Linked DNA regions of Homo sapiens: region 2 is linked to region 1. The links come from fine-mapping of genetic effects on gene expression. A gene starts in region 1. The other region holds a variant in brackets. All regions are shown on one strand. Distances are from middle to middle.

Evidence for each region. PIP is the estimated chance that this variant, and not a neighbour inherited with it, causes the effect.
Region 2: its variant is the best candidate, but not a certain one, in a credible set for the expression of SESN2 in neutrophils (BLUEPRINT, PIP 0.59).

What each region holds. Positions count from the first base shown.
Region 1 is chr1:28,256,927-28,262,297 of GRCh38, reverse strand. It overlaps SESN2 (sestrin 2), which reads right to left and starts at 2,780. Exons shown (of 10, transcript NM_031459.5): 1 at 2,361-2,780. The coding sequence starts at 2,450. RefSeq lists silencers at 1,870-1,929, 2,710-2,919 and enhancers at 2,189-3,037, 3,030-3,209.
Region 2 is chr1:28,309,287-28,314,657 of GRCh38, reverse strand. No RefSeq gene overlaps it. Among named protein-coding and RNA genes, the nearest start is that of MED18, 17 kb to the left of the region's middle. RefSeq lists an enhancer at 521-1,021. The variant A/T (reference allele first, on the strand shown) is at 3,203.

The DNA.
Region 1 (5,371 bases):
GATACACACATCTGAAGGCAATGAGCTCCTGAAAGGGAGTGTGTGGTGAAGTGACAGGGAGTTAAGGGAGCTGCACGCCTGGGTCTTCTCTTGGACCTCGGGCACCTGACTCAAAGATCAGCACCCTGCTGTCTTCTAAGGATGCCACCACTCAAAGCAGAAACCGTCCGAAGGTCCTCTTTTCTCGAGAGAGGAATACACAGAAATCTCCCAGATAGGCCAGGTGCGGTGGCTCATGCCGGTAATCTCAGCACTTTGGGAGGCCAAGGCAGGTGGATCACCTGAGGTTAGGAGTTCAAGATCAGCCTGGCCAACATGCTGAAACTCTGTTTCTACTGAAAATACAAAAATTAGCTGGGCATGGTGGCGGGTGCCTGTAATCCCAACTACTAGGGAGGCTGAGGCAGGAGAATTGCTTGAACCTGGGAGATGGAGGTTGCAGTGAGCTGAGATCGTGCCACTGCACTCCAGCCTGGGCAACAGAGCAAGACTCCATCTCAAAAAAAAAAAAAAAAAAAGATAAGAAAAAGAAACCTCCCAGATAGCAGCAGTTTTCTCCACTGAGGAAACATGGCTTCTGTGTAAAGATCCCTCCCTCAAAGCCTTTTCTCCCTAGACCAGGCACTGACCCAGAGAGGGGTGTACAGTGTCTGATCTCAGGAACAGGCTCAGGCACCCCCTTGTGAGACACTCTGGAGAAAGCTGTGCGTGCCATGGCCACGTTCTGATAATAGCAAGCAAGTATCACGCAGTTACTATGTTCCAGTCACAGTGCTTCAGCTTTTGCTTGTATTCTGAGTTAATTCTCCCAACAATCCCTTAGAGATACTGTAAAATCCCCATGGGAAGAAACCACAGATCAGAGAAGTGATTACTGGCTAAGCCACACACTGCAAGTTAGCAGGAGGGCTGGGACATGAACCCAGCACTCTTGCTCTCTAGTGTTCAGGTGTTCTCAATAGTAACATTATTTCCATCTTTCCAAAGAAGTCACACAGCTGAGAAGCTGCAGGAGAAGAGCCATTCCTCCACATGGCGCTCCTAAATCACGGCAGAGAAGGGTAAGCAAGCTAACAAAAACCAGGGCACAAACTATACACCGACGGAGGTAGGATCCCCAGAAACCACGTTACTAAGAGAAAAGCAGGGATTTTCCTGGGGTCATAGCACTCCACCAAATCCCAGGTCCAGAATACAACTTCCACCACACTCTAGGCCTGTAAACTAAAGCAACTAGAAGCTCCTAGTGCCGTGCAATCTCCGAAATCATAAGGCCAAAGAACAAGATATTCAGTGGGGTTAATGAAGAAAGCCTCTTTCTGAGCCCATCGTGGGCCTCAATGTTCTTCCTGTAAAATGGGGCTATAGCGTAGCTTGTATTGCTGGTTTAGTCCTGAGGACTTAGGTTAAAGGCGAAAAAAACTCAGAGCCTGGTATCTAGTAGGTGCATAATAAATGATAAGATGTCCATTATCGCTGCTGCTGGTAGTGGTGGGGGAGTGCGAACTGTCAGTCTGGTTAGGTCCAGCCTAATTCCCGGTCTCCCTGCAAAGCCCCTGCGGGCTATGCCGGGATGCGAATGCGGGGGGGTGGAGGGGAGCGGCGCGAAGGGAGGGTGGGGGAGGAATTTCTGGAAAACAAACTTCTGGGCCTTCAGACCACTTACTTAGCAGGGCGCAGCCTAACCCGCGCTTGGCTTCGGAAGCCGCGACCAGGGTTGTCCCCTCTCCCCCCAGCTTTGGCTGCCGCCGCCGCGTACCGGGCGGCCCGCCAAGCCCCCAGAGCCCCTGCGCTCTCCCTCCAAAGCAGGAGTGCGGTGGACATAGGATGAGGTCGACTTTCACTGGCCAGTCCCAGGTGCCTACGCCCCGCGCTGGGGGACAGGAGCCGGGAGGCACCCCAGGAAGGGTCCTCTGCCCGCCGGCCCCCGCGAAGAGGAAGGGACTCCGCGGAAGGGGGCGGGGAGGAGGAGTGGTCTGGCCGCTCCGGCCGGGATTTGCCTGGACTTGAAGACGCTCAGGAGCCCAAAGCTCGGAGAGCCTCCAGAAGGCTTCTCCCTCATTGGCCAGGAGTCCGAGGGAGCCGAGGAAGGATCCGCGGCCCTGGGGTGGGGCGGTGAGGGAGAGGGGGAGAGGGAGGGAGGAGGGGGAGAGGGAGGGGGAGAAGGAGGGAGAGGGGAGACAGAGTGGGGGAGGGGTGCCGAGGGCCGCGGCTGCCAGTTGATGCAACCCGGGTCCCGGGTTACGCGCTCGGCTTTCCCTCCCCGAGCCCAGGACACACCGACTCAGCTCCGGACAGCCTGAGGCTCAGACGCGGTTCGGGGTTCCAGGGAAGAGGGGCGTCGCGCGGCCGCCGCTTACCTCTCCGGGGCCCGAGTCGCCGACGCCGCCCGGGGCGAACCGCAGGTAGTCCTTGAGCTCTGCGCGGCACTCGGAGTCCGCCACGATCATGGTGCGCGCCAGGACCCGGTCGCGGCTCGCCGACGACCCGTGCACCCGAGTGGGTTTCGGAGGGACGCCCGAATGAAGCCGGGACTGGGCGCCGCCGGGGAGCTTCTAGAACCCCGGGGCGTCTCTCGGGGCTCCAGAACGCTCCGGAATCCGAGAACGGCCGCTTTGGTGCTGGACTCTTCCCCCAGTCGGGCTTCGGGAACGGCGAACGGCCTCGGGGGCCTGGGAAGGGCCGCAGCGCAGGGGTTTTCACGGCCTCGGAAGTCCGCAGGGGCCAGGGCTGCTCCCGGACCCAGCGCTCCTCAGCATCCCCGCCGCGGAACTGCCAGCGCTCGCCGGGCTCTGACACCAGCAGTTCAGCCCGCTGCGGTCCCCGGGGGAGGGCGGGGACACAAAAGCCCGGCGGTCCAGCCAATCAGAGGTCTGTTTCCCCGGGGAGGCGGGGGAAACTCCGCCCCCTGGAGTCACGGGCTCCGCCAATCAGCACCGGGGAGCGCCCGGAATTCTGGGAGTTGTAGTCCGCCTCGGGTGAATGCTGCAAACTTTTGCAAGACGGTTTAGTCAGATCCCTGGCAACACCAGACGGCAGTGACAGCCCTAAGAGTCATTAGGGTTGCGTGATGAAAAGGGACTTCACTGGGCTAGGCCAAACAGCCGAGTGTGAAATCTCCTAAATGAATTCTTCATCTTTTCAGTTCCTGGAGGGACTGGCTAGGGTTAAGAGAGGTTTGGCTCGCGTCCTATCCGGTGCTGCTAATTATAGAACTGAACCCCAGATATTTAGAGGTCAGAGGGCACAACCCTGCTCCCCCTGGCCTCGGGGAAGCTCCAAAGATGCGAGACACAGGGAATTCACCTTATTTGTGGAGCCTCAGGAAAAGCCTTCATTCCTTGAAATGTCATTGGTAACTTCGTGTGGAACCTCAATCCCTATTGCTGGAAGTTTTCTTCCTTCTGCTACCCGTCCTGGCTTCCACCCCTCCCACCCTCCTCGAAACTTTGTAACAAGGTGTTCTGCTGGATCTTTGCTCACCTCTCCCTCTGGCCTTCTCTGACTCCTCTTTCACCACCCACTTCCTAAAACGTGGGTGCTTCCCCAGTTTGTTTTTGCCCCTCTTCCCTCCAGACACTCTCCCTGATCTCATTCACTTCCTGGCCTTCAACTCGCCTCTTGCCAGAAAGTTGCCTCTACCAACACCTCAGCACCTCCAAGCTAAATTCATTTTCTATTCATTTCAAACGGAGCCTCTTCCTTCACAGTTTTCCTTCAGAGCTCCTTTTTTTGTTTCCATTTTAAAGTTATTGTTTATTCTAGACAGGGAATCCTGCCAGGGGTGAGGGTGGATAAGACCCCCAAGTCCCCCTCTGAGACTTCTAAGTCTAAGCTTACAATTCCAAAGATGAAACCGACTTGGTTTCCTGCCTCCAGATTCTTGGGAAAAAGAGATTAATCTCACCCTCCCCTGAGCTCCCAAGGCACTTGAGCTGGATCTCTTTTCACATGTATCACATTCTACCTAGTTTTTTTTGTTTTTTGTTTTTTTGTTTTCTGTTTTTTTGTTTTTGTTTTTTGTTTTTTAGTAAATAGAGACAGGGTCTCAATATGTTGCCCAGGCTGGTCTCAAACTCCTGAGCTCAAGCGATTCTCTCACCTCAGCCTCCCAAAGTGCTAGGATTATAGGCATGAGCCACCATGTCCAGCCACATTCTGCCTTGTATTGTAATTTTCTATGTACATGTTTTATCTGACCCTTTTTTCTTTTTATTAGTATTGTTTTTTAGAGATGGGGTCTAGCTCTGTCACCCAGACTGGAGTACAGTGGCATGATCATAGCACGCTGCAGCTTCAAATTCCTGGGCTCAAGCGATATTCCCTCCTCAGCCCCCCAAATCAATCACTGGGGTTACAGGTGTGCACCACTGAGTCTGGCTTATCTGATCTTTTTAATTGTAAACTCCTTGAGGGCAGGGTCAACATCTTTTTTTTTTTTTTTTTTTTTTTTTTAAACAGAGTCGCACTCTGTCTCCCAGGCTGGAGTGCAGTGGCCCGATCTTGGCTCACTGCAACCTCTGCCTCCCAGGTTCAAGCAATTCTCCTGCCTCAGCCTCCTGAGTAGCTGGGATTACAGGCAAGTGCCACCACACCCGGCTAATTTTTGTATTTTTAGTGGAGACAGGGTTTCACCATGTTGATCAGGCTGGTCTCGAACTCCTGACCTTGTGCTCTGCCCGCCTCAGCCTCCCAAAGTGCTGGCATTATAGGCATGAGCCACCGCGCCTGGCTGGCAGGGTCTACATCTTGACATCCATCTCCTGCTCTATGTCACCTAGCAAAATGTCCTGACAATCATATGCCCTTGGTCACGGAATCTTCCTTTGCATCAACTTCCTCTCTAAACTACCCTGTGTCAGCTTCAGCTTTCATTTAAAAAATTTACTATGTGGCCAGGCGTGGTGGCTCACGCCTGTAATCCCAGCACTTTGGGAGGCCGAGGTGGGCGGATCACGAGGTCAGATCAAGACCATCCTGGCTAACATGGTGAAACCCCGTCTCTACTAAAAATACAAAAAATTAGCCAGGCGTGGTGGCGGGTGCCTGTAGTCCCAGCTACTTGGGAGGCTGAGGCAGGAGAATGGCGTGAACCCAGGAGGCAGAGCTTGCAGTGAGCCGAGATCGTGCCACTGCACTCTAGCCTGGGTGACAGAGTGAGATTCTGTCTCAAAAAAAAAAAAAAATTTACTATGTAATGTCAAAGTCCAGATCAAAAGGCTTCACTGGTATTTCATCAGCTACAGAATTAAGATCAAACTCCTTGGGTGGGCATGGTGGCTCACGCCTGTGATCCCAGCACTTTGGGAGGCAAAGGCAGGCAGATCACCTGAGGTCAGGAGTTCAAGATCATCCTGGCCAACATCGTGAA
Region 2 (5,371 bases), 52 kb before region 1:
CTTTTCTCCTGAACATTTCCTTCTGAACCCACACTCTTTAGTCATACAGACTTAGGGTTGATTCCTGACCCTGCGCTAACCAGCTGTGTGACTTTGGTGAGTGACGTAACATCTCTGATCTTCAGTACCTGCATTTGTAAAATGAAATAATAGCATCTACCTCACTGGTTTGCTATAAAGATTAAATGATACAGGGCATGTAGGATGCACAATAATTTAAATATGTATGTAGTTCCCATCTTACAGATGAGGAACTGGAGCTTGTTGAAACTTCCCTTGGCTCAGGATAATACCTCAGGTTAAAGAGAGAGCCTACAAGAAGAGAAAGAAAACTCGGGTGAGAACTGGATGGGTACAGGTGAGCCAGGCTCCACCTTTCTGTCCAGGAGCTCAAGGTGACATGGGCCACCCAGTGACCTTTCCTGCCTCTGCTGCCTCAATGCACAGACAGGTTGGTTGTGAAACACCCCTGGGCGGTGACTCAGCCTGGAGGCCTGCTCTGCTGGTCAGCGCGGGCAGGCTGGAGCTGTTTGGTTGAGCCTGGAAAGGACAACATGTCTAACAAACACATTGCTTGTCAAAGCTCTGACGGGGGTGCCAAGCACAGACTGTGAACTCTGGTCCTTGAGGCATCACAGATGACTGAAGTGGGGTGCCTAAGTTGCATGCAACATCTCCTGGTTGTTGTTCTGGTCTAACAACCTTCCAGGGCCAATGTCAGGAAGAGGGTAATGTTTTAGAGGCTGGGGAGCTCCTATTTCTCAAGAGGCAGCTTGGCACGGTGGCCAGGACCTGGGCTTTTGGCATCCATATCATGCAGACCTGAGTTCACATCCTGGCTCTGGCTTCTCACTGGCTATAAGACTTTGGGCAAGTGGCTTAATCCTTTCAGATTTAAACTTCCTTATTCTATAAAATGCCCACCTTTTTATTTTTATTTTATTTATTTTTTTGAGACAGGCTCTTGCTCTGTTGCTCAGGTTGGAGTGCAGTGGCGCTATCTTGGCTCACTACAGCCTCAACCTCCCAGGCACAAGCGATCATCCTACCTCAGTCCACCCCCTGAGTAGCTGGGACCACAGGCATGTGCCACCAAGCCTGGCTCATTTTTTAATTGAGATAGGATCTCCCTATGTTGCCCAAGCTGGTCTCAAACTTTTGGACTCAAGTGGTCCTCCTACCTCAGCCTTCTAAAGTGCTGGGATTACAGGTGAGAGCCACTGTGTCCAGCCAAAATTGTCTTTTAGAGATAAAAGATGTAAAATTCATGAAACATAGAAACTCTTCATAAACAATTATTAGAATCCTGCGCCCAAATCTGCCCCTTCCTTCACTCCAAATGGAAATTGCCCCTCCTGGCTGGGTGCGGTGGCTCATGCCTATAATCCCAGCATTTTGGGAGTCTGAGGCAGGCGGATCACCTGACATCAAGAGTTCAAGACCAGCCTGGTCAACATAGTGAAACCCTGTCTCTACTAAAAAAATACCAAAACTTAGCCAGGCGTAGTGGCGAGTGCCTGTAATCCCAGCTACTCGGGAGGCTGACAGGAGAATCGCTTGAACCCAGGAGGCGGAGGTTGCAGTGAGCCGAGATCACACCACCGCACTCCAGCCTGGGCAACAAGAGTGAAACTCCGTCTCAAAAAAAAAAAAAAAAAAGAAAAAAGAAAAGAAATAATAAATTGCCCTTCCTGCTCTCTTGCTATTGTAGTGTACTTTCTCATTCACCCAGAGGTAGTAAAAAAACCACCCATTCCAGGCCGGGCGCGATGGCTCATGCCTGTAATCCCAGCACTTTGGGAGGCCGAGGAAGGTGGATCATGAGGTCAGGAGATCGAGACCATCCTGGCTAACACGGTGAAACCCCGTCTCTACTAAAAATACAAAAACATAAGCCGGGTGCGGTGGCTTATGCCTGTAATCCCAGCACTTTGGGAGGCTGAGGCGGGTGGATCACGAGGTCAGGAGATCGAGACCATCCTGGCTAACACGGTGAAACCCTGTCTCTACTAAAAATACAAAAAATTAGCCGGGCGTGGTGGCAGGCGCCTGTAGTCCCAGCTATTTGGGGGGCTGAGGCAGGAGAATGGCATGAACCCGGGAGGCGGAGCTTGCAGTGAGCAGAGATCCTGCCACTGCACTCCAACCTGGGCGACAGAGCAAGATTCCGTCTCAAAAAAACAAAAACAAAAACAAAAAAACATTCCCAATGGTCTTGAGGTCTAATAACAACAACAACAAAAAGCAACCAGCACGCACTTATATATATATATTTATGGATAAGTACAAAAAATAAATCCTGTTTTGCATCCCAGAACTCATTGTTCAGTATGAGTTTGTTTTTTTTTTTTAATTGGCTGGGTATCGAGGCATGTGCCTGTAGTTGCAGCTGCTCAGGAAGGGGAGGCAGAGGCAGGAGGATCGAGCTCTGGAGTTGGAGGCTGTGCTGAGCTTTGATGGCACCACTGTACTCCAGCCTGGGCAACAAAGACAGACCCTGTCTCTTTTTTTGGGATGGAGTTTCAGGCTCTTGTTGCCCAGGCTGGAGTGCAATGGCGGGATCTCGGCTCACCGCAACCTCCGCCTCCCAGGTTGAAGCGATTCTCCCGCCTCAGCCTTCCAAGTAGCTGGGATTACAGGCATGTGCCACCACGCCCAGCTAATTTTGTATTTTTTGTAGAGATGGGATTTCTCCATGTTGGTCAGGCTGGTCTCAAACTCCCAACCTCAGGTGATCTGCCCGCCTCGGCCTCCCAAAGTGCTGGGATTACAGGCGTGAGCCACCATGCCCGGCCGACCCTGTCTCTTAATAAAAAAATGTTGATTCTAGGATTGTAGAATAGATAATTTAAAAGCATAGGATATGAGGGAAAACCTCAGCTATATTAATTTTGTATTTCAATTTCATGCTGACTTGATACATAAGATGGCTTTTTGTTTTAAAGGCTTTTATCTTGAGAACACGATATCTGGAGTTAAAGGTATTGGCATATTCCACACATCTGTACTTATTCTTGAGTGTGATTGCTTAGGAATGAATATGATTTAAACTCATTCATGTTTAGAGAGGGTGTCAAATTGAGAACCAGGAAGATCCACGTACGCTAAAAATGACCCTAAAGTAAGTTGGTTAAAAAATTAGATTCCAAACATTCTTGGTGAATTTTGAAGTCTTCTTCAGTGTACCCATATTATTATTATT[A/T]TTATTTTTTTTTTTAATTTTTTTTGAGATGGAGTTTTACTCTTGTCACCCAGGCTGGAGCACAATGGTGCAATCTCAGCTCACTGCAACCTCCGCCTCCCAGGTTTAGGCGATTCTTCAGCCTTGCCTGCTGAGTAGCTGGGATTATAGGCATGTGCCACCATGCCCAGCTAATTTTTTTTTCTTTTTTTGAGGCGGAGTCTCGCTCTGTCACCCAGACTGGAGCGCAGTGGCGCAATCTCAGCTGACTGCAACCTCCACCTCCCAGGTTCAAGTGATTCTCCTGCCTTAGCCTCCTGAGTAGCTGGGACTACAGACTCCCAACACCACACCCAGCTAATTTTTGTATTTTTAGTAGAGACGGGGTTTCACCATGTTGGCTAGACTGGTCTTGGACTCCTGACCTCAGGTGATCCGCCTGCCTTGGCCTCCCAAAGTGCTGGGATTACAGGCGTGAGCCACCACGCCCAGCCTAATTTTGTATTTTTAGTAGAGATGGGGTTTCACCATGTTAGCCAGGCTGGTCTCGAACTCCTGACCCCAGATAATCCACCCACCTCAGCCTCCCAAAGTGCTGGGATTACAGGCAGGAGCCACTGTGCCCAGCTACTATATCCACATTAAAAGGAGATGACAGAAGCCAAAATAAAAGAATTATGGGCTGACAGGACAACTAGATTAAAATATGCCTCAGTTCCATTAAAAAGGGCTAACTTGAAGATAAATTTTGACTCCAGCTCTTTAGAGGATCTATAGTGACCTTGGTGGACAGTGGGAAAAAATCACAACATGAAATTCCTTGAATAAAAATGTACTGACTTAAAAAAACAAAAAAAAGCAAAGCACAACTATCATAGACAGAAGCACCAGGCTGGTTGTATCACTGTTATCCTATTGATCACTTGATTCATTTCCTGGTGTTAGAAGAGAAAAGACATTTTGTTTATTTATTTATCTATTTATTCATTTATTGAGATGGAGTCTCACTCTGTCACCAGGCTGGAGTGTAGTGGCGCGATCTCAGCTCACTGCAACCTCCACCTCCCAGGTTCAAGCGATTCTCCTGCCTCAGCCTCCTGAGTAGCTGGGACTACAGGTGCCCACTACCATGCCCGGCTAATTTTTGTATTTTTAGTAGAGATGGGGTTTCACCATGTTGGCCAGGATGGTCTCAATCTCTTGACCTCATGATCCGCCCGCCTTGGCCTCCCAAAGTGCTGGGATTACAGGCGTGAGCCACTGTGCCCAGCCAAAAGACATTTTAAATCAAGGAGAGTGGTAGCCTGAATAATCCCTCTCAATGATGCTCAAGCCCTAATCTCTGGAACCTGTCAGTGTTACCTTATATATAACATAATTGCTTTGCAGAAGGGATTCAGTTAAGAATGTTGAGATAGGGAGATTATCCTGGATTATCCAGGTGGGCCCTAAATGTAATCATACATATCCTTATAAGAGGGAAGTAGAGAAGGATTTGACTGCAGAAGAGAAGGCAATGAGATGATGAAAGCAGAGATTGGAGTGATGCAAACTCAAGTTGAGGGATCCAACAGCCACCAGTCGCTGGAAGAGGCAAGGCATAGTTCTTCCCTGGAGTCTTTAGAAGCAACCAGCCCTGCCAATGCCTTGATTTCAGCCCCTTAAGACTTATTATACACTTCTGGCCTCCGGAACTGCAGGGGAGTATATTTCTGTTGTTTTAAGTCACTAAATTTGTGGTAATTTATTGCAACAGCTATAAGAAACTAATTCAAGGGATGTGGTTGAATCATTATTATTATTATTACTTTTTTCTCTTTTTTTGGAGACAGTCTCATTTTTGTTGCCCAGGCTGAAGTGCCGTGCACTGGTACAATCACAGCTCACTGCAAGCTCCACCTCCTGGGTTCAAGCAATTCTCGTGCCTTAGTTTCTGGAGTAGCTGGAATTACAGGCATGCACCACCATGCCCAGCTAATTTTTGTATTTGTAGTAGAGATGGGGTTTCGCCATGTTACCCAGGCTGGTCTTGAATTCCTGGCCTCACTTGATCTGCCTGCCTCAGCCTCCCAAAGTGCTGGCATTACAGGCATAAGCCTCTGCACTCAGAGTATTATTATACTTTTAGAGATAGAGTCTCAGTTTGTTGCCCAGGCTGGTGTGCAGTGGCAAGATCACTGTGTGAATTAT